Linked DNA regions of Homo sapiens: all the other regions are linked to region 1. The links come from fine-mapping of genetic effects on gene expression. A gene starts in region 1. Each other region holds a variant in brackets. All regions are shown on one strand. Distances are between the middles of the regions.

The links. PIP is the estimated chance that this variant, and not a neighbour inherited with it, causes the effect.
Region 2: its variant is fine-mapped to the expression of RHBDD1 in monocytes (TOPMed, PIP above 0.99).
Region 3: its variant is fine-mapped to the expression of RHBDD1 in whole blood (TOPMed, PIP 0.94).

The regions. Positions count from the first base shown.
Region 1 is chr2:226,831,987-226,840,169 of GRCh38, forward strand. RHBDD1 (rhomboid domain containing 1) reads left to right here and starts at 4,068. Exons shown (of 9, transcript NM_001167608.3): 1 at 4,068-4,101; 2 at 6,087-6,168; 3 at 7,423-7,641. RefSeq lists enhancers at 3,387-3,681, 3,521-3,590, 4,431-4,580 and a silencer at 3,851-4,380.
Region 2 is chr2:226,871,926-226,880,108 of GRCh38, forward strand. The region is part of intron 5 of RHBDD1 (rhomboid domain containing 1); the gene reads left to right. Among named protein-coding and RNA genes, the nearest start is that of RHBDD1, 40 kb to the left of the region's middle. The variant AG/A (reference allele first, on the strand shown) is at 3,782.
Region 3 is chr2:226,971,920-226,980,102 of GRCh38, forward strand. All of the region lies in intron 8 of RHBDD1 (rhomboid domain containing 1), which reads left to right. It also overlaps a transcript of COL4A4 not described here. Among named protein-coding and RNA genes, the nearest start is that of RHBDD1, 140 kb to the left of the region's middle. The variant T/C (reference allele first, on the strand shown) is at 3,242.

The sequences.
Region 1 (8,183 bases):
TGATTTTCATTTTCTCTATTTTTGTTACTTATTTTATTGATTTGCAATATGATCATTATTTCCTCCCTTTGCTAAAGGTTTACGTTCCTCCTCTTTTTCTAGTTTTCAAGGTGGAAGTGTAGATTTGAGACTCTTTTTCTTGGTGTTTAAAGGACTAAATACCCTTTTGATCACTGTTTTAGCTGCAGTGCATGACTTCAATATGTTTTCACTTTCATTCATTTCAAAATACTTTCTAATTTCCTTTAGTACTTCTTCCTTGGCCCATGAGTAATCTAATTTCCAAACATCTGGGGATTTTCCAAATTTCTTTCTATTGTCAATCCCTAATTTAATTCCACTGTAACTGGAGAATGTACTTTGTATGATCCCAATTCTTTTAAATTTACTGAGACTTATTTATGGTCTAACATAAGGCTATCCTGGAGAGTATACTTTTTAAAAAGAACATAAATTCAGCTGTCATTAAGTACAGTGGTCTGTACATGTTGGTTAGGTTGAGAGTCTTGTTCAAGCCTTCTATATACTTAGTGATTTTCTGCCTGGTTGTTCTACACATTATTGTGAGTAGGATACTGAAATATCAAACTACTGTTGTTTGTATATTTCTCTGTTCAATTCAATCATTTTTGCTTCATGAATTTAGGGCTCTGTTACTGGGTGCATATACATTTATAACTGTTATATCTTCTCAATGTATTGACCCTCTTATCAGTATGGAATTTCTGTCTCTAAAAATATTTCTTGTCAGCCAGACGCGCTGGCCTGTAATCCCATTTGGGAGGCCGAGACAGGTGGATCACATCAGGTCAGGAGTTTGAGATCAGCCTGGCTGACATGGTGAAACCCCATCTCTACTAAAAAAATACAAAAAATTAGCCAGGCATGGTGGCGGGCACCTGTAATCCCAGCTACTTGGGAAGCTGAGGCAGGAGAATTGCTTGAACCCGGGAGGCAGAGGTTGCAGTGAGCCAAGATTGTGCCATTGCACTTCAAAAAAAAGAAAAAAGAAAAAGAAATTTCTTTCTTAAAGTCTGTTTCATCTGATATTAGTATAGCCACTACAAATCTCTTATGGTTAGTGTCTGCATAGTCTACTGTTAAGTATTGTTGGTATTATTATCACTATGGTACATGAACCAATTTCTCATTTTTACAGTTCTTAAATTGAGATTTGAATTATTTAATTTGCAAGCTTTTCCATAACTAGAAAGCTATAAATTATCTTATCAGTTTTACACATATTTTGGTACAGTTTTGGGTAAAACAGTAATCAATACTTGGTTCATTAAAAGCAATTAGAAACCCAAACAAGCTTCTCCCTTAAAAAGATAATCCAGTTGTGTATTTGTTGCACGCTGTCGTTGCATGGTATTGTTGCCTGACGTCCTCTCACTTTCAGGCTGGGTTCTGAAATCTGAGAATGACACTTGTCTACCTTCCTGCCAGTCCTGGATTTGTGAACTGTACAAGGGTTGTTACCACCACTCCTCCGCTTATGTGCAAGCACCACATCTTAAAAACACTCATTTAAGTCGGGTGGCTTAATCATAGGTATTGCTGCTTTTCCTGTAAACCTTAGATAAAAGTTAAAATTTATTTTATACCATTCAATGTCTCACATATTATGCACAATGTGCATAGTGCTGCCTCGTCTCATGATTAAGATATATACTTTCCAGCATTTAGAAATCATTGTTTTATATGGTAATGTAGTGATTACGTATATTTTAAGTTAAAGAATTTCTTCTGGCACTGATTCTTTGGTATTTTTAAGCCTTGCTCAGTGAAAGGATGCTGCTGCTGATTGCTTCATATGTTCATATTTAAGATATACAATTATTATCCAAGTGATATTTGTCAATTGAAATGGGATATGAGCATGTTACAACATGCTCATTTCAACAGAAACTTTTAAAAAACCCAGTCTGCTCAACAAATCACGTAGGACAAAAGAGAAGGTCATTTTTTAAAAGGTAGATATTTTTTTCTATCTGTTAAATGTCTTTTACCCCTTAAATGTCTATGAAAATTTTCACTGATATTTGAAACAGAACATAATTACCTAAGAATATTCTTAATCCGTATATATTTCTTACATTTTAACGAAATTATTGAATTGAGACTTCTTGATTTGTGGCTCCCTTAAAATCACCTCTGCATTTGATGTATTATACGGACAAGAAAATGATGCAATTATAGAAAGATGTAGAGAGTGATGGAGAATAGAAGATAAGATTAATATTAATTGAATGGATTCATATGATTGTGGTTCAGAAGGATAAATGAGGACTTCTTCCTTTTGAGAAATTACACATTTCCCCCTCTAGGGAAATACAGAAAATACCTCTATAGGCAATTTACTTTTCCCCGCATTCATTTGACTTTTCATGTCCAGAAATGCAGTTTCTCATTGTCAGTTGAGCTTTTGGAGGAGTATATTGTTTTTCTAGGAAAGAGGTAACTTATGAGTCTTAATGAACACGTACAATTTGCTAAGAATCTTCTTTGTCACTTGAAAGTCATATGTACACCCACACCTATGCATGAGCCACATTTTCACTTAAATTTCAAACTCCAAAATAAATATTTCTATGAAGAGTTTTAATACACAATGGCAAAAGATAAACTCTTCTGGTTTAGGCAGTTTTTGTTTTAGCAGACTATCTAAACACAGCTGCTACAACTTCCAATAAACAAAGAGTAACACTAAACCACCTGTATTCGGATACTCGGATTCCTTCTTGGAAAAAGAGCATCTTTACCCTAGCTATCAGAAAATTCCATACCAAATAGTAAGATTTTTTTTTTTTGAGATAGAGTCATGCTCTGTCGCCCAGGCTGGAGTGCATGGACGCGATCTCACTGCAACCTCTGCCTCCCGGGTTCAAGGATTCCCCTGCCTCAGCCTCCCGAGTAGCCGGGATTACAGGCGCCCGCAACCATGCCTGGCTAATTTTTGTATTTTTAGTAGAGACAGGGTTTCGCCATGTTGGCCAGGCTGGTTTTGAATTCCTGACCTCCGGTGATCCGCCCGCCTTAGCCTCCCAAAGTGCTGGGATTACAGGCGTGGGCCACCGCGCCAGGCCTGTTGTTGTTTTTTAAATAGAGACAAGGTCTCACTATGTTGTCCAGGCTGGTCTCAAACTCCTGAGCTCAAGCGATCCTCCTGCCTCGACCTCCCAAAGTGCGGGGATTACAGGCGTGAGTTACCGCGCCCGGCTGTAAGATAGTTTTTTCATATCCTATTAAATATATATAGCATTGCAACATTTAACTTAGCCTAACTCCTACAGCTAAACATAAAACTTGCTCCCGAGTAGCAAACAATTAAAATGGTATCAAATTATGTATTAATCGAAATTCTATTAACTGAAATATGAAACACCTAAAGCCCTCAAAATGGGCAAACGTTGCGTGGTGCAGTCCCAGACCCAAGCTTCTGGGAGTGAAAGGTGCACCCGCGACCTTGCCTTGCTGGCTGGCTCTGGGACTCTGCGATAAGCCGCCCTCCGGTTGTCTGCGATAGCTCCTGAAGCAGGAGAGTGTCTTTCCCACCCTCCGCCTAACAGGCGGTATCTGACCCTTCCAGGCAGCAGCTCCCCAGCCTCCGGCTGCGCTGGGGCCCGGAAGGACGAAGCTTCCCGGCAGAGAACCTGGGCAGAGGCGTCCGTTGGGTAGGCGGCCGCGACCCGCTCGCTGCTTCTCCCCTAGTCTTCGGGTCCCTTGAACGCAGGTCGCTTGTTTGCCTTACGCGTAGTCAGCGGCCAGTGGCTATTTATGGCAGTAAGGAATATTATCCACATTTCACATGGAGCTTAGAGGACAGGGCGAGGGTCCACACTCTCCTTACTGCGCTCTGCCGCGGTCCTGCCCCGCTGTGCCCTCGCGGCCCCCTTAGAGCCACTGCCGGCGCACGCGGTCTGCAGACAGCAGAGCGCGGGCGCGCACAACTAAGCATGCGCCGCGGCCGAGCCGTCCGCTTTAAGGCCCTCCCCTCCCGCACCCGGCCCCAGGAACCCGGGGCGCCCCGGATCGGGAACGTGCGTGATGACGCACGTGCGCGCGAAGACGTGGGGACGCAGGCGGGTCGTAGAGAGCGTGAGTTTCCGCGTCTGTTTGGTCCGGCTGCTGTCGTTGGTTGTGAGCGGCATCTCTCGCCGTTTCCCCGGGCTGCGGGAGCTGGCGGCCGGGCTGGGGCTGCTGGGCGGAGGTCGGCGCCTCCCGGGGGGCTAGGGCGAGGGAGGCATGGCGGGGCTGGAGGCACAGCCTCCCCGTCCGGGGCAAGTCCGAGAGCGGGGAGGGCGTTTCCTGGGGTAACTCCACCTGGGGTCTTGTCGAAGTTGCCGCATCTCCGCCGGACCGCACGGGAACGACGTGCCCACACTCGGAGGAAGGGGTTGGCGCTGAGCGAGTTTAAAGGGTTCCTTTTGAAAGCAGGAAGTTTGAAGTGACGTTGCATCAGCAACAGAGCATGCAGTTTCAGGTGCTCTCGGGACAGCTTTCAGTTTCTCAGAACAAGTCTAAGCCTCACCGCAGTAATAACTTTTATTAGAGGACAAAAAATCCGCCAAAGTAAACCCTTTCTGTCCAACCCCTAAAAACCTTTGGATAAACGTTTACAAGAAACGGATCACAGCCTTATTTGTTTTTCTAAACTGAGCATAAACTCTTTTGAAGACTCAGCGTTACTGTCAAAATGAATGAGTGCCTGCCTAGTTATGATTCAATTATCGAGGTGTTTGGGTCTCTGCAGTACACTCAGTGACTCCCAGGCTTTTCTTTTTTCTCTTTGAAATTGCTTATTAGAAGGCTTTATCTAATTTCTCACAGTTGTGTGTCTTTTTGAGGTAGTTCTAATAAACTTTAAAGGCTTCTGGTTTGCTGCAGGCCTGCCGTCGCTGTGGAAAGCAAGTATTCTTTCAAAGAAGAATAGAAGTGCATTGGTTTCTAAATAATCCCAGGACGCTAGGATCAGCATCACTTGGGAACTTCTTGGAAATGCACATTTTGGGGTCTTATCCCAAACTTACTGAATCAGAAATATATTTTAACAAGCCTTCCAGTTGATACCAATGCACCTGGACGCTAAAGTTTGAGAATTAATGGCGTAGTGATAACACCCATTGTGGAATCACATATAATGGAATTTGAATTGAAGTAATTCCTAGATGGAAAAACTTGGACATGTTACCTCACAGGGCTGGAATATGAAGATGCAAGAAAAATGTTTAACACAAAACACATAGAAAACCCTCAAAGATGTTATTAAGTAACTTATTAGAACTGCATAAAATAAGTACATAGTTTGTGCTGGAAGGATTCTTCAGCGGGGTAGATATGAGCTGTAGCGCATGGATATTGGGACTGCTGCTTAGAGGGTATTTTGTTTACCTCGGGATTCTCAATTCTGTGTAGTCAAGGTTGTTGGATGCAGGATATTCAGTTAAAAGTTAAAGCAGTGCATACTAATGCTATTGTGGTTGTAGGATTTTTAAGAATAGCATTAGTATTTATGTTGAAGAGTAGTTTTTAATTCTTTGGCCTTCTGATCTCTTCAGCTTTGTTTGGAGACAGTCTCTTTCTGCCACCCAGGCTGGAGTGCAATGGTGCAATCTTGGATCACTGTAACCGCTGCCTCCAGGGTTCAAACGATTCTCCTGCCTCAGCTTCCCAGGTAGCTGGGATTACAGGCGTCTGCCACCACGCCCAGCTAATTTTTGTATTTTTAGTAGAGACGGTTTCACCACGTTTGCCAAGCTGGTCCCGAACTCCTGACCTCAGGTAATCCACCTGCCTCGTCTTCAGTTTAGTTATACCTTCTTTGACCCAGAATTTGGTAAAGACCAGAGGTAAGCACTAGTTTTAGAGTTGAGAATTATTGTAACATAGTGACTTGCAAGCGAAAGCCAAGGCTGAATATGTTTCTGTCCTTATCTTTGTTTCCCATATGTCGTACAACTCCACGGTAGCAAAGATCTCATGTCTACTCTAGATACCTCCATTTTCAGGAAGGATCACAGGAGTGCCCTCAACCTGCTGTGTTTTTTAGATGCAGTATTTTCTTACAACTTTATCTCTTTCAGGGGTCCATTGTAGGGGGAGAAAGAAATATTCAGGATTTAAAGCAGCTGCTCTAAAGGCTACATTCACTGCAATGTTGAGAAGGTCAGTGCCAAACCGTGGCCTACACATGTCGTTTTGATGAGAGCACGCTGCTCCCAAGGCTATACCATGGCTCCTGGATATTGAGAGAGTTTTCAGATAAACATAAGTCACTTTGAATGGATTATTCTGGAAATAATTTCGTTAGCTCTGCCACCAAATTGGCACTGCCCCATCATGAAATGTTTATTTTTCGAAGGCATTAAATATTTTTTTTTGTTCTCCTCATCGGAGAGGCAGATCGCTATCTGTGGTTTTAGGTCAGACAAGCCCTGCTCTGAATCTTGCCTCTGCTACTTAGTGATTGTGTACATTAGACAAATTAACATCCTCCCCACTTGAATTTCTGTAAAGTAGGAGTCATAGGATGTGCTACTTCAGGCCATTGAATTAAATGAAATAACGCATAAAACACGTCCACCTTGTTTTAGGCACAGAGGCTCAGTAAATGTTGTGTGTCGGACAAAGGGAAAAAAGGTATTTGTTGTCTCAAACCTAACTTTATGCCATTCATTTTATAATATTTTTATAAATGAGGTAATTTTATTACCTAACTGCACTGCTTTTCTTTTTAACCATAAAATGCTGAAATGGAGTCAAAGCTTTCATATTATTGTGAATGAGAAAAAACAAACACTTGAAAAAAGTTGAAACTTTAACGTGAAAAAACACCATCTTCAGTTTTATCACTGTAACAGAGCAACTTGTAGAAATTGTTTTGGATGTTTACAGCAAGGTAAACATCCAAAGGTCAGGGGATGAGTAATAAAGTATCTTCTGTTAGTTAATGGGGACAGTCAGCTAGAGAAGGGGACACTGTTACAGGAAATGAGACCTCGTTGAAGGTATGCATCAAAGGATGAGAAAATGCTGTTAGCCCTGAAATTGCTAATATTTTTTTAAAACACGAATTCTTAATAGCAAAGTGAAAAGTTTTACATTACATTTTTTAATAAGGGATAACAAAATCTCTTACATGTATTTCTGTGTGTTTATATTGTATATGAATGTATGAGTGCAGAAAATACTTGACTCACACTAGGTCATAATTTTATTTGTCAGTATATTGGAATATGGGGGTGGGGACCAAGTATAAAAGGAAATTTTCTATATATGTAAAATTAGATACGTACATGTATATGTAAATGTTCTTTAAAAAAACTATTAAAAACGGAAGCGATTCTTTAAAAGGTAGATTTCCTTTTATGTTGCAGTCATAGCCACGTAAGCAATGGACCTCATATTTTTTTTCAACAGGGAGCCTCTTAAACAGAATCTTACCTGTAAAACTCAGGAGCCGAGAAGCTTTAAGAACAGTGAGGTTGAAGGGCACAGGCTCTTGGTCCTTGGCAGCGATATTAGGAGGCGTGCCTAGGGAACCTCGGATTCCGGGGAGCTGGACGTGAAACTCTGTGGTGGAATAGAAATCCTCAGGGCATGAGCTATACCTAAAACGTAATGGTATTAAGAATTCTGGTAAGTGGGATTCACAAACTTGTTCTGAAGACAATTTCCAAGGTTGTCAGCCATGTCACCATATGGATGGCTTCTCATGCAGAGGAGTGAGTGATTATTGAGAAAAAAAAAAACCCACCTGACCCGTATTTTACAAAGTAGGATTCTGTGCACTTTTTTGAGGAATTAGCTTTTTAAAAAATCCCTCCAAGTTGTGACAGCTGTATCGCTATTAAAAGCTATTTGGCATTTTAACTGACTGTTGTTTAGGATTACAAATGACTCGGGGAAAAAGAAACAAGGAGTCAAAGGAAGTGTATTACTTGTGTTTATAGCCCTATCATTTTTTTGTTGTATGGAAGCAACTACTCTATATTTATATAGTAAAGTGTTTTTTTAGAGTTAATTTTTAGTTAATAATGAGCCTTCATAAGAAAAATAATTTCAAATGCTAAGTATTTGTTAGATTGTTACTAATAGTGGTAGTTAGTGATATTACATTGTCTTTTTCACACATTGAAGAGGGTTTCCTGGTGACAGCTGGAGCTTGGGGGAGGGGGAGT
Region 2 (8,183 bases), 40 kb after region 1:
ATATGAGGTGACACTTGGACATCATGCGGATAACTTGTTTCCAGTAACTTTTTGTCTAGATCAGTGGTTATCCTTGTCTGGATTGTTTATTTTAGGGGGAATTATAAAGGATGACTTCTTCATTGGTTATGCCTTTTATATTTGTTTGATGAGATTAATCCAGAGTTGGGGGTTAAGACCCCAAGGCAAGGAATTGAGGAAGATGAATGTTTGTCAAAGGCTGGTCTTAGTTTTATGGACTTCAAGCTTATTTGGTTTTATGGGTTCTCCTTAGGAAAAAAGTACAAAATTGCAGAAAAAAGTAAAAATTTTAAATGAGAAAGGGAAAGACAGTTCATAAAATTTTAAGACCTGACAAATATTATAAACATTATTAAATCCATACAAATAATATAATATTAATTCCCTGACACACCTCTGTAATATTTTCCCCGACAGGTTTTGCTGCATGCTTTCTGATCTCTTTTTCATATGAAAATAACCTGGCAATAGTATTTCCGTAGAGAGAACATCATGGTGGCTCAAAATTAGTTTTCTATTATTAAGAGTTTAGAAGAGCTTTCTTCACAGCTCATCATGTAAATTTTTAGAATCACTGTCCAACTTTGGAAAGCCTCTATCAATGTTTTTTTTACAGGCAAGCTGTAAAATTTCAGTACTTTTCAAGTTTTTGTGAAGTGATCAATATCAAATGTTTTTTGAATTGAATCAAATGTTGTCATTGACCTTTAGTGGCAAAGTGCAGGTTTTAGTTTTCTTCATTGATCTACTTTGTTCTTAAATCAGCAAGTAATTTAAGTACTTAATTAATGTTCTTATGATGCAGTCCTCTTTATTCATTGCCAGAAAGCCAAAGTCCTACTGATTATTTGTTTACACTTTCTGATGTGATTTGCATATAATTTTGTTTGAGAATTATAAACACAGGAATTCTGATAAAGTTAGTTTGCAGGATTCTCCAAAAAGGAAAGGAACATGGTACATTTATAATTGCATATACTGCATTATCATATATGTTCCTGATGTGGGAGAGCCTCTAATTTCAGTTTTGACTATATGAATGAGAAGTGAGTCCTCTTCTTACAGTTTTACATGCTTGGTGTTTGGAAGATTTTTCCAGACACTGGTCCTGATTCCAGCATGATGACTTTACTGCAAGTGCTAGCTGCCACAGGACACTTGAGAGTGCTGTGGGACCGCTGCTCTTGCATATCCTGTTATCATCCTGGTTACAAATGCACAGTGGGCATTAAGAGTATTTCTGGAAGCCATTTTTGCACTGTAAAGACTGGCAGTGACTCAGCTATGCACAGAAATGACCACAAACCACATAAATATACCATGCTGAACCCAAACCAAATGTATCCTCAACTCAACGTCCCTTTAGCTGAATCCCAAAAATGCCTGGGGCTACTCCAGTGACAACTGATATGGGAGGAAGTGTGACAGAGGGGGAGTTAGAGTGGAAAGAGACAGCAGTTTTAGTAGGTTGTGGTTAAGATATCTCACTTTCACAAGTATAAAAGAAATATGACCATGTGAACATGTTGCTGGGACCCCTCCCAGAGCTCTGAATGAGCCCAGGCAAGTGAGGGACCTGATGCCTCATAAGCTTCTTGGCAAAGCTGCATGTTTCTGTTGAGAGGGGGTTGGTGCAGTGATGACTCTGGGGAAGGGAAAGTAATGGAGCTGAAGAGCCTTGTAGACTGCAGGATAATGGAGGAATTAAGAGATAGGAGGTTTTGTCAAGTTTGAAAACGGAGAAAGCTGTGAGAATAGAAATTGGTAGTCAGAGGAGAGGATGCTGGAGTTGGTTTTGCTGGTGACATGGCCCTGAGAATGTCTATGATGGTATGAAATTGAGACATGGAGGAAGAAAAGGTCCTGGTAGTCAAGGAGTTGTTCAAGGGGTTGTGAGTTTAAGGTGTGGGTGGGTCTGTTTTCACACTGCTATAAAGAATATCTGAGACTGGGTGATTTATAAACCAAAGAAGTTTAATTGACTCACAGTTCCCCATGGCTGAGGAGGCCTCAGGAAACTTACAGTCATGGCAGAAGGTGGAGGTGATTCAAGGTCGTCCTACATGGTGGCAGGTGTAAGAGAGAGCACAGGGGAAGTACCAGACACTTATCAAACAACCAGATCTCATGAGAACTCACTATCATGAGACCAGCATGGGAGAAACTGCACCCATGTTCCACTCACCTCCTACCAGGACCCCCCTTGACACATGAGGAGTATATTCAGATTATGATTCAAGATGAGATTTGGGTGGGGACACAGAGCCAAATCATATCAGGAAGATTATCTGCATGGACAGTGCCATTACCTAGGAGGACTGTAGGAGGTAGGGTTGGGGGACAAAGAATGTGAGGCTACTCTGGTGTTCTCTATGGATGTCAGGAAATGGTATTGGAGGCAGATAGTAGACAGCATCTTTATTAGTTTCTTATTGTTGCTGTAACAAAGTACCACAAACCTGGGGGCTTACAATAACACAAATTCCTTCTACAGTTGGTGTTGTCAGGGTGGAGTTCCCTCTAGACTCTAGAGCAGTTTGTAGGGGAGAAACTATTACCTTACTCCTTCCAGCTCCTGGTGGCTGCTGCCATTCCTTAGCTTGGGGCTGCATCACTCCATCTCTGTGTCCAGGGTCATGTGGCCTTCTCCTTTTTCTATCTGTGTTAAATATCCCTCGTCTCTTTCTTATCAGGACACTTGTGATTGCATTTAGGAGTCACCCTGGTAATCCTGGATGATCTCTGTACCTCAAGATCCTTAATCACACTTGCTAAATCCTTGCCATATATGGTTACATTCATCAGTTCCAGGGATTTGGATGTAGATGTCTTTTGGGGAACCATTATTCAGCCTACTACAGCATAAACAAAAAATAGAAAGTGATGGAAATTCAAACTCAGAATGCCAATCCCATGTGTCTCAGCCTGTGCGTGTGCGCCTCTCTTCCCTCTCCCTGGCATGCCTTTTATTGTCTCCTTGTGAATTCCTGGTTATTCAAAACCCAAATCACATAGTATCTATTGTATGCTACTTCCCCTGATTCCTCCAGGCAGTGTTAATTACTTCTTTGTCTTTGCTTCTGTAGTGTTTGTAGATTTATCTACCGTAAGCCCTTCCTCCATCATAATTAATCTGTGTTTTTCACTTTCTTTCTAGGCTATGAGCTTCTTTAGGGGCTGTTTCTTGTTTACCTTTGTATCTTAACCATCTGCCTGACACAAAGTAGGCAATTAGTAAATATTTGTTGTTGGATGGACATAAGATAAGGAGCATCAGTTGTTTTCATGGTTGCTGTTTGGCTTGAAATGGCTTGCTAGATTGCTTTATGAACTGTCTCAGGTATTTTTACTTTATTCTTTCCATTGTAAGGTGGACTGATATCTCATTGTTTTAGAACTTGGTATCTCACTCAAATGTAAGGAGGTAGTAATCTTGAACAATTCTGAATTAAATCTTTAGTAAAAGAGAATGTTTATTCCCTCATGTGCCTGTGCTTTTGAGATCCTTGTTAAATGTTGACCTAAATCAATACACTATTTCCGTACCCATCGAGACTTCACAGTTTAGCAAAAGAAACACTAACTACCCCCCAAACCAGAACAGAAGGTGGGAATGTTAGTTCAATAAAAATAGAGGAACAGAAAAGGAAAGTAACTCTGATTTGAGAAATTAGGAGGCGCTGCAGAGGACAGGGCTATGTATGTTGAGTGTTTGGAAATAATAGGGCAGATGATGAGATAGACTGCTCTTTGTTTTGAA[AG/A]GGGAAGAGAAAGAACAAATATAGGAAGCTTGGCAAATTTATGAAATCACAATCTATCCATAAATGCTGGGAGATAAAGCTAGTGGTGTTCCTTCAAATGTGTTCTTTTGACCACTAGTTCCTTGAGATGTATCCTGAAACAGGGCTTCCTGGTCAGTAGACTTCAGCTCATGTGGTGTTCTGTGTTCCTGCAAGGGCACAGTGCACATGAACATGTGAAGGATTCTGAAAACATTGCAGGATGGAAATCGGATTTGCCAATTAGTTTCCTAAGTTTACTTGACAATAGCACCCTTTTGTTTTAGCACTGGCATGCAGCAATGTACAGAACAAATGTTCTTCATGGTGCATTTTATAAACTCCAAGTTGGGAAGAGGCCAAACCATAGAGAAGAGGCCAAATCATAGAGGGCTTTGGATGGCAGGTTAATAAATTTAGGCCATGCTTGTAGTCAGAATGGACACACGGCTTTGGTTTCTGAGAAGGAAAAGCCATGAATGAATATGTGGTTTAGGACAGGAGGCCAGGAATAGTATAAAGATTTGCAGAATTGGTGGCAGGTGTCCATTTACACTGTTGACATAGACAAGAGAAGAAACTGAAGGCTAGAACTAGTGCAGTGACTGAGAGAATCGAAAAGAGCAGCCTCACGGGAGAGCAGTTTCCAAGGCCCAGTGACAGTTCATGGGCCGTATAGGAATGACTGGTGTATTGGGAACTTCCTACATGCCAAAAACCATTTAAGCTCTTTACGTATATTATCACATATCATCCTTATACCTACTTTGTGAAGAAGTAATTATTACTTCTACCACTTAAGAGATGAAGAAACTGAAGCACAGAAAGTTAACTTATTGTAGCTACTTAAATATCAGCTAGTCCATTGGATAGCCAGTGTTTAAGTTTCTGCAATCAGGCCCCTAAATTCATACTCTGAACTAGTGGTTCTCAAACTTTTGATCATAAAACCCATTTAGACTCTTGAAAATTATTGAGGACCTCAAAGAGTTTTGGTTTATGTGGGTTATAGCTATCAATATTTACCATATTGGAAATTAAAACTAAGAATTAAAAAAAATTAATATAATTCATTAACATTCATAACATAATTTATCAATAATTCATTTTAAATATCAGTAAGCACAATATGTGTTCACATAGATAAGTTTATGAAAAATTAATGTAGTTTTCAAACAAAATGAGATGAATGGCAATTTTTTTGCAAAACTTTTAATGTTTGGCTTAATTAAAAAAATCTGATTCCCATATTTGCTTCTGTGTTAACTCCTAGAGCTATATCATTTTGATTGAAGGTCAGTTTGGCCTCATACAGGTATGTACTTGGGAAGGGTAAGAGGGATTGTTTTAGTAGCTTTTTCAGGTAATCGTGGATATCCCTCTTTGCACTACTAATTTGGCATGTGGTGGTTGCTTAAGATTAGTTCCAAGGTGGAACCTGAAACCATATCAGTGAACCTGACCACGTTCTGTAACATTAAAATCTGTTGATCTGTCTTGAAGTTTGAATAGATCTTTTCCCTATATATGATTTTCTAATATTATGCATTGATTATTTGGAAATATTGGTTTACTGATTATGTAGACTTTGTAAATATTGACTTAATTATACAGTATCAAAGTATCACATTTATTTATGTCACCACCAATCTCATCAGAAAACTCTTTAAGTATTGGGAAGCTGTCAAGCTCACAGTGCCACATAGAAGTTTTCCAAAATTCTAATTTTCACTCCAATGCTCAGATCTTATCATTGACAACAAATTCATTAGTTGTTTTCCTTAAAGGCTTGCTTTATTTTTTTAGAAAATGTGAGCCATTTTCCTTTTTTTTTTTTTTTTTTTTAACCATAGTTCATTAGTTTTTCTTTTAAGTAAACATGGCAGGGGAAAGTGGGGAGGGCCCATGAAAACAACGGCTCATTCATCTCACAGCTCAAACCCATAAGTGCTTTTCTTTTTCCACAAGCATCTTTCTTTGCTATACAGCTGAAGTGCTTTGTGTGTATTTCACATTTCATCACACGGTGTATTAAAAAGATGTGGACTAATCTTGGTGTTTAATAAAATTAGGAATTTTACCGCTTTGTCAAAGATATTCCTAAACACCATGAATATGTGTCTGTGAAGAGTGCAGTGACTATTGGTATTGTTTGGGGCCACTGCCTTGATTCACTTGACTCATGCTAAGGCATCAGCAGTTGTCTTCTTGCTTTTGTGCCATTAGTGTAAATGTCAACATGGTTTTTCTTAAAAAAAAGGGCAGATCATGTCTTAATGTTGCTGTGAAAATAGTTTTGACTTTGTGAACCTCTGGAAGGGTCTTAGGGGCTTCTAGTGATTCATAGAGCACATTTTGAGAATTGCTGCTTTAAACTCTGATGCTACCTCTCTAGTCACGGGAAGACTGCTTAGCTTGTATGAAAGGAAAGATGGTTATTTGCAACCTGGGAGCTTCCAAGGGAGCTTCATGTAGTTAGGGATGGGAGGGAGAGGGAAGCAGTAGAATATGTACAATTATATACAATCACTGAAATTGCTGGTTAAGAACTGTGGACTTGAACTGTTAACTCTTTGTAGAAAGGAGAATGGCTAATAGCAATTTAGAAGATAACTGTAACAATAGCTTCAGTCCCACGTGTTCTTTTCAAAGTTTCCCACTCAGCCATTAAGAGGTGGAGTCCAGTTCACCTCTCTGCTAGCTGGGTGGATTTGTGACTTGCTGTAACCAATAGAATCCAGTGTTAAGTATCACATTGCTTCTGAAACAAGCAGTTTCTTGCCTTGTGAGTTGAAATGCTTGTCTCTGGAGCCCATGTCAAAAGCATACAGCTTTCCCGATGTCACCAGGCTGTGAGGAAGAGGCCCAACCATCAGTGGCATCAGAGCCAGACATGTGAGTGTGTGGCCTTTGATAGAGCCACAAAGTTACCTCCAGTTTTCTCTGCTGAGGCTGCTGACATTATGGAGCAGAGACCGACCACCCCGTGTGCTCCTTCTGAATTCCTGACCCACAGAATCTGTGACTCCAAGAAAACGTTTCTTTGGTCCCACTAGATTTGGGGAGACTTGTTCTGTAGAAGTGGTAATGGCAACCATGAGTTGAATGAATATAGGAAAAGTAGAATGAAAAGTGTGCAAAGGACAGTGTTGAGTCGGGGAGAGTAGAGTGAAAAGAAGGGAGTGAAAGAGTCTTGGGGACAGATCCATACTGAGTTGCTGTGCTACTGTGAGTCCTAACAACAGCACCCATCAAGTAAGAGAGTTTTAAATCAGTGGTTTTCAACTGTGGGTTCTAACTCATTAAAAGGACGTGAAATCAATTTAGTGTGTCACAACTGGCATTCCAAAAAAAAAAAAAAAAAACAGACATAGAAATATTAGTGTTACATATAGAAAGGGTAAGTATTATTTCAAGGACCTTTGATTTCAGCTATGTTTGTATATGTGCTGGGTGAAGTCTAAAATAAGTTTTTATGTGGGACACAGTACAAAAATTTTGAGAGATGCTGCTTTAAACTGGCTACTAGTTGCTTAAGCTAGACTTAAATATGTGTGTGGGATCAGTATCATTTATTGCCTTCAGTGGAAGAGAGAATTAGATTGCCAGGACTCTGGTGGCAATGAGAAGAACAGGCCATGATCATAGATTTCTGCTAATTTATTGTCTTTTGTTAGAACAAGTACTGTTTGTTCACGAGGCTTACTAATGAGTGTGCCAGCTCTCAAGATAGTTGTCTGTATATGGAAATGTGTGCTCACAGATTTAGACTTCACCTGAGCCAGAAATGCTAATAACAGTTGTTCAGTTATAAACAAAGTTATTAGTAAAACCCTTTAAAAATGCAAAAAAAGGGTTATCTAGAGCAAAGGAGAAAATGAGGTATAAAATTTAATACATTTTCCCAAATGAAAGTATAACATTCCTTTCTAAATTGTTTGAAATGTAAAAGTATTTCTGACAGCTTGGTAGAAAATAAAAACCAATGGATATAGGGTCAAAAGATACATTGGGAGTCCATATAAATAAGCAAGTGACATATAAATTCAGCAATACCCAAATTAGTCATTCTTAGAAGAGAAACCTCCTTCAACAAAAATAACCTGATGGATAAGGACTGCAGAAGGAATTTTGGTCTTCTCAGAGTTGGGTTGGTGTCTGTGGCAGCTCTTTGAGAGGGGAGAAGAGTGGCTGTCTCAGATTTAGGTTTCTAAAGGAAGGTTTAAGTTATTTTTCAAGAAGTTATGTCAATTTATTGTGTTATTTTGGTCAAGTTGAGCACAGGTTGGCCTGTGTGTGCATGTCCATGTGTGTATAAACACACATTTGTTTATTGTCAAGGATGAGCATTTTCTGAAGCATGGTTTTCTGTTTATATTGTAA
Region 3 (8,183 bases), 140 kb after region 1:
TTTTAATTTTACTTTCAGTTCTTGGATACATGTGCAGAACATGTAGGTTTGTTACATAGGTCACATGTGCCACGGTGGTTTGCTGCACCTGTCAGCCCGTCATCTATGTTTTAAGCCCCACGTGCATTAGGTCTTTGTCCTAATGCTTTCCATCCCCTTGCCCCCTAACTCCCAACAGGCCTTGGTGTGTGCTGTTCCACTCCCTGTATCCATGTGTTCTCATTGTTCAACTCCCACTTACGAGTGAGAACATGCGGTGTTTGGTTTTCTGTTCCTGTGTTAGTTTGCTGAGAATGATGGCTTCCAGCTTCATCCATGTCCCTGCAAAGGACATGATCTCATTCTTTTGTATGGCTGCATAGTATTCCATGGTGTATATGTGCCACATTTTCTTTATCCAGTCAATCATTGATGGAAAAAGCCCACTTCTTAAGAAAGAAACACAAAGGTGCTAAATGAGAGGAGGGAAGAGAGAGACAGGGATTACCTAAAGAGCAGAGCCATCCTCCTCTTTCTCAGCCCTGCTATGCCCCCTGGAAAAAGGGGTCTGCCCATATGAGTGGGCCTGGGAAGGCTGCTCCACCCAGTTCATCTGGACTCCCAGGGTCACTAGATGGCACCAGGGCAGACGTGGGCCACACTCAAAACCCTGCAGTGCTGCTTCATGGACGGAGCTTCTGGGTCAAGGCAGGAGCTGGAAATGGTGGAACTTGCCCTCCATCTATGAAATTTTTTGAGTCAGTCATTCAGCAAATAATGACTAGACACCTATGATAGTGACACAACAGTGAACGGCACAGACTGGTCTCTCGAGTCCAGGGGCTCTCTGCTCACACTCGGCCAAGCTCTTGCTGTTTAAGGGTGCCTTTCATGAAGTCTATTTGAAATGTTTTGGTTTCTGTCAGTTTTTGGTTGGGTTATAGGTAAGTACACAAGTTACCACATGTATTTAGAAGGCCCAATCCCTCCATTTATCAACTAAAGTTAAAGAAAGGAAGGAAGCCTGTAGCAAAAAAAAAAAAAAAACAAAAAACCATGCAGGTTCCCCCACTGCTATATGATTTTCTATATTTATGTTTTAATTTCTTGGTAGGCCTGGACTTCAAAGTAGAGATTCAGAGCCCTACCTGAGTTTGGGTTGTGCCCTGTGGCTGCCATCCTTCCTCACAGAAGTTCCTCCCTGGACTTCAGCCTCGGGGTTCTTGTTCACTTTCAGTATTTCCTTTTTGCAGTGTGTATGTGTGTGTACGGAACTATATAGTGTTGATTGTCCTTAAATGATCTTCTTCCAAACTCATCCAAACCATTTAATTTGTAGCAGGAATCCCAAAGTATATCCTTCCCAGAGAAAGAATGAGATTTGCCTGGCATCAAGTTAAGGAAATCATTACTCAAAAAAATTGTTTAAGACATTTTCCTGTGCTAGAGATGCTGGTGACCAAGAAGTGGGTGCCTGGGGGAGATGTCTGGGCTCATTATCTGGGAAAGTTGGGAAGTGAGTGTTTGCCTGTTCCTTTTTCCACTCTGTTTCCTCATTGGCTTTGCCATTTACCCAACTGCCCCCATTCTAAGATTGGTGTTTACTGATCAAGAGCAAAGCTCTACTGCCTTAGGAGTAGTTCATAAAATGATTCCTAGATGTAATATTCACTCTCTTCCCTGCCTAGTCCCCTTAGCAAGGACCTCTCTAACATTTTATGTTTGAATTGTTTTCTTCCAGAGACAAAGGTAAGTTAGATCAAGAGTAAACAGATGGAGATGTTCATTCTTGGAAGCAGCAAGCATTTTGTTATCATTGTTATTGTCTGAGCAAGTGAAAACCAGATGAGAAGAGCCTTGACCTGCCTCCTTCACTAGCAGAAGTGAAGTAGGTCGTATCTTTCTTGCAGCATTCCTGTGAGCGTTAGAACAACTCCGGAGCCCATGAGTAAGGCTACTGTGTGTTAGAATTGTGATTCTGCCTGTTCATCCTCCTGGCTGCCCACCCCTGAGAATCTCCTTTTCGTTCGCATGGGCTCTTTGATAGCAGAGTGGCTGCCTCTCTGCAATGAGCTTGAGGGTTTTGTGGGTAAGAGGCCCAGTGCCCCTCACCGCCTTTCCACATGCTTGCCTCCTTACCCAGTTTGTCAGGCTTTGACAGATGGCCGGCGTTTGTCTCACCTGCGATTCCTTTTTGCACAGCACTCGGTGTAACACTTCAAAGAAATAATTAGCATTCTGAGTCTTCTCTGCCCTGTGCATAGAATGTGGGAAGGTTCCGCTGAAGAGGGACTTGAGCCCAGAGTGTTGTATGGGTGTTGCCCTTTTTTTATTTTATTTTATTTTATTTTATTTTTGAGACAGAGTCTCGCTCTGTCGCCCAGGCTGGAGTGCAGTGGTGTGATCTCGGCTCATTGCAAGCTCCACCCCCTGGGTTCACGCCATTCTTCTGCCTCAGCCTCCTGAGTAGCTGGAATTACAGGCGCCCACCACTGGGCCTGGCTAATTTTTTGTATTTTTAGTAGAGACGGGGTTTCACCGTGTTAGCCAGGATGGTTTCGATCTCCTGACCTCATGATCCACAGGTCTTGGCCTCCCAAAGTGCTGGGATTACAGGCGTGAGCCACCGTGCCCGGCCTGGGTGTTGCTCTTTTTAGTCCTGACTGTCAAGGTATTAACTTCTTTAGAGTCACTTTTTCGTTGAACAAGGATGTACAAAAGAGACATCTAGTTATTACATTCTTCTGGTTTGGTTCTAAAATAAATGGGAAGGTACCTGTGGAAGTGATTTGTATAGATTTCCAGGCACCAGGATCCTCTTTAGTGTCCCGCACCCAAGAGCAGGGTGGATACTCCCTGCAGGCTGAGAGTCGTGAACTGTACAGTGCTGAGAGTCGTGAACCATACAGTGCTCACGGTGTCATCGTATAATTGGAGATCACTCTTTTCAGGTACCTCGCCAGTGCGTGGCTCAGGGACATCCTGGAGATCTTGGTGCTCCCATTACCATTTTCAGGCCATGTATCTCTTCCAGGCTGTGCTCCTGTGGCACAGATGAGGCCTAGTTCCACTGCTCTGATGGCCACACGTGAATCAGCAGCAGTGACTCCTTGGTACGTGGAGAGAACTGGGACTCTTAGTGGGTAGCAAGGAAATTATGTTTTTAAAACCACCAGCTCCTCCTTCCATTTAGTTGGCAGTTCCATTTCTAATATAAAATCTTTCAGATCTGAGCTCTCCTAGGGCCTCCCAAGATTTAATA[T/C]GGTGCCCCAGAATGATAAATGAGAATAAAGAGAAACTCTTCATAACAGGACCATGTAGAAAAGGTGGAATCGATGCCCCTGAGGTAATTAACTTGATTGTGGTACTCATTTCACTACACACACAAACACACACACACACATCTATAAATACATATATAAAATCATCACGTTGTACACCTTAAACTTATACAATTTTATTTGTCAATTAGACCTCAATAAAGCTGGAGGTGAGGGAGGCCCGAACTCAATGACAGTTTGCTTTCCTCAGAATGGCCATGGGGTGAGGGAGGGCCCCACTCCTAGAGGGAGCAACTTCTTGATTTTCCTCATTCTTATTTCCCCCTCGGGCCACCCAGAAGCCAGGCCAGTCCTACTCAGATGATAGAAAACCTTATTAGCCCTCCTAATGAAATGGGCAGTTTGGTACAGAAGAGGGGAATCTGCTTGGATTTAAAGATGGCGTCAAACTATTGTCCAATGCAGGGAAATACATTTATTTCTACATGCAGAAGGAACTCATTAAAATCTGTTAGGCTTGGAATTTTCGACAATGATTTGTACATAAACTCCTTAAGTATTGCCTTGTGTACTGACATATTAAAAGTTATGATGATGCTTAGGAACTACAGATTATTTAGAAAATGTTTGAAAAGAGATAATACACAAAAGCAAGATTTCATTGTCACCAATAGATAGCAGGCAAGATTACCTTGTCCCTCTGAGGGTTCTGATTGAGTGCATTTGGCTGCAGGAGTAATGTAAGTGGCCCCAGGGTTGTTGTGTTCTGTATCTAGATCTGGGGAACAGTCACACTCATGGTTCCAGTTGAAAATAGGTCTCCTGCCCCCATTAGCATAGCAGGGCCTGTCTGGTCACAAGTCCTGGCTGTTTGGTTTGGAGACTATGTGCAGTATGGATTGGAGCAGAGGTACAAAGCCCCAAGTTTTTGGTACTAGGGACACTTGGAAGGTGTGAGAGCACAGCCTGCTCTTCCCTCAAGGCCAGCCCAAACTTAGCAGCCAAGCAGGGCTTCTGGGGCAGTCCAGGTGTGGAGCTCTTGTCCATTGTCACTTAAGTCCTCTGTCACCTTGTCTGTGTCCTCTGGTCATACTAGATCTTGGATATGCCCACCCCCCTGGAGACACCACTAGACAAAGAGAAATGAGGATGTCTAGTCAGTGACTTCCCAAGTCCAAGTCGAGACGTCTGCTTCAGCTGCTTTGACATGCAGCAACATCAAAGGAGCAGTACCCCAATATAGTAACAATTTGTTGTAAATTATCAAAATGTGTGAGCTTTACCCACGCCTCCTTACCTGGAAACCCTCCCCTGCCTTTTCCTCTTCTTTGACTATCCCATCTTCACTGTGTAGGAGACTCACCACCGTATACTGATGAAGAATGCACACAGTTCCGTGTGGTGCTGCTGCTACCTTAAGCTCATCTAGAACACTTAGAGGAAGAGAAGAGACCCCAGTCCAACTTCACACATCAGGCTATTGTCTCATTTTGAGAGGAGGAGAGAAGGGAGGGTTAGGAGTACCTTAACGGGGCCTGGGTGTGGCTTCTAAGTGCTGCAGGCACAAGGTACTATGACTTGGGCCTATCGGGTAGGTGTCTGGAGTGAGGCCTCTTGGCCCTGGGTCACAAGGGCAGTGATAAATTTCAGTGACCACAATACTGCTCTGATATTTTTCCCCACTTGGTGGCATTTTATATATAAAACTGAGGCTTCATTTATTTTGACCCCCTCCTCCCATTGAAAGAGCCATTATCTATTTCTTAGAGGCCCCAAACAAACAGGGTGGATGGCAGAGGCCTCTTGTCTGGCACAAGACTCGGGTTCCTGGTTTACCCTTCAGGCTGGGATAAGGCTGGCCTCACAAGTGAGACTCAGAAACAAGCCACTGCTCTCATGAATGCCTGTCTTCATGGAAAAAGGGATCTTTTTGGTCATTTGTTTCTGTGCCTTTGTTCTGGAAATGAGGAACTTGAGGCCCAGAGAAGTCAAGGAGCATCATTGGATGTCTCGCGTCTCTGGTTTCCCAGTTCAGTTTGTGTCTCCCCTTCGGCAAGCTCCCCCTCCCTTTAGTTTTGCATTTAACACAGTCTTGCCTTCATGACTGCCGCCTCCTTTTTTTCTGTAAACACAAATATGAAGTGTATTTGCTTTGCTTTTCAGCCTTGTCTGCCCCACTGAGTGTCCGAAATAGCCGGCTGGAATTCATGAGAATGTTACGTCTTCAGATGTTTATAATCCAAAAGAATCCCTTATGGTTTTTAATAATAAAACAACTTAGATGTCGGTATTTTGTGTTGGAAAGGCGAGCAAAGTTCACAATGCAGCAATTACAATGCAGTGCATTATGTATAATTTGTAGCCTGCCCCAGGAGCAATGGTGAACCGTGAAACACCATCCTGGCCCTGTAGCATAATTAGCAGGATCAAACGCTGCACAGGGAGAAGCATAATAGTTGTCATCCGAGGTAAATAAAAGTAAGGAAAAGTTCTGATACACCCCAAATTATATAAAGAGCAGCCCCTATATCAGGCTGCAAATATGTCAAGAGTCTTCATTGCTAATTGAAGAAATCTTTTGAGGTTTAGCAGCTCATAAATTCACACTGGGAATTGGCCTATTGTTCTAAGTCTTGTCTTTGGAATGTAACAGTTGTACTTTTATATTGAGTTCCTCCAATAGTACCATTGTAAACATGAAGAGTTTGCATTTTAACGTAAATTTGAACAATGTGGTTTTAAAAGAGTTCACCACATCAAAAAGAGGCTGTTTGGGCATGTTTTATGCATTCTTTTCTCTATAGTATTTAAAGCTATAAATGACTCATAGAAGTATGTTCCATTTAGATCTGTCATGTTGGTGTAGTGTCCTCACTGGAGCTTGTACTGCCCTTATTTTTTTCTACTGTGAGATAATTATCTGAAAACAGGTCTAGGCCTTTTGCCAAGTCACTTGCCCTTAATCTGTCTTCAGATCCATAGAAACAATTCTAGAACGCTGTTACACTTGGACTAAACAGCAACACATTTTGTGCCTTTTCATGATCATCTTTTTTTTAAAATTCAAATATTCAATTTGTACTCTTTTTTCTCCATGTACCAATTACAACCCTTCCTATAGCCTGCTAGCCCCCCATTAAAAATCTCTAATTTTTTGCCAAGCCACTAGTTGGAGTAGAGAAAGGTTGGATGGTAAAGGGAAACATGTGTGTACTGGTGTCCAAAGCAAACTGGCGGAATATGAAGAGTGCTGGGCTTGGATCTGACCCCTGGACATATGGACCATACCGTTTTCTGGTGTGAGACCTCAAGAAACTGCCCACCTACGTCGAGCCTCAGTCTTTACATCTGTATAATGAAGGCAATATTTAGCACTCTACACCTCCTTCCATTCCTGCATTTGTTCATTTATTTGTTCATCCCCAGGCATAGAATGTGGACATAAACCCTCACTGTCCTTGCCCCCATGGAGCTCACAACGCAGTGAGAATGCACGCTGTCAAAATGATTAGATTCACGAGTAATCACTAACCATGGCATCATGTGCTGTGAAGGGAGGGGATCCTGTGAGAGCTTCAGGCAAAGGACCCTCACTGGGGGTGATCAGAGGACACAGTCACTTCCCTGGAGAAGTTGTGTTTGAGCCAAGAGCTAGAGGACATGAAGCAAGGAGAGATGTTTGTTTTTGAAAAGCTCTCCCAGCTACTGTGTGGAGAATGGCTGGTAGGAAGACAGGAGCGAGTGTGGGGAAATGGTTTAGGGTTGTGTTAGAGTTCTTCAGAGGGACAGAAACCAATAGGATGTAGGTATGTATAAAAAAGAGTTTATTATGGAGAATCAGCTAAGTGATTACAAGCAAAGTCCTATGATAGGCCATCTGCGGGCTGGGGAAAGAAAGAAGCTATTCGTGTGGCTCATTCCCAGTCCAAAAGCCTCAAAACAAAGGAAACCTGCAGCGCAGCCGTCAGTCTGAGGCCCAAGGCCCAAGAGCCCCCAAGAGGCCACTGCTGAAAGTCCCAGTGTCCAAGAGCTGAAGAAACTGCAGTCTCATTGTTGTAGGACTTTCTCCTCAGTTCAGCTAAAAACTAGGTTCTTGTCACACAACCAGGAAAGATAAGGCTTATGGACACATAGAAGGGTGAGAAAAGCAGAATTTATTGGGTGAAAAAAGGAAAAAACTCAGCAAAGCAAGATGGTTCCTGTTAACAGGCCCCCATCTCACCAATTGAATCCCAGGTCACCACCCAGGAACAGGAGGGGCCAGGCTCCTCCCCCCTGCAAATGGCTGGAACTTCCCGAGACCCCACCCCATCCTCCCATTGCACAGGTCAGTTGGAGATTCTCTAGGAGCCCGTTTTACTTGGCTGGCTCATCATATTCAAAGGCAGGAGGAGAGGAAGCAAGCATCCCGCACAGGAGGAGAGAGGAAGAGCAAGAAGACTCAGCAGGCTGGGTACCCTTCTACCGTCTGCCCTGTTCTAGCCATACTGGCAATCCACTGGATGGTGCCCACCCACATTGGGGCGCATCTTCCTCTCTCAGTCGCCTGACTTGAATGTCGGTCAGTCTCTGGCAACTTTCAGAAACACCCAGGAGCACTGCTTCACCAGCCATCTAGTCATCCCTCAAGCCAGTCTAGTTCACACCTACATTAACCATCACAGCGGTTTAGGCACTGGTCTAGGCCCATGATACAGGTGACTCAAACATAGTTGGTGACAGGACAGATAGAGAACAATGGACAAATTTGGGAATGTTCAGGTTAAAATGACAGGTTTTGATGGATTGAATTTGGGGACAGGACGAGTGGAAGAGGAAGGTGTCAAGGAAGACTCTAGGGTCTGGGCTTGTGTGACTAACCAGAGGGATAGTGGGGGCATTTCTGAGAAGGGCAGCCTGGAAAGGGGGTCATTAGTGTAACAG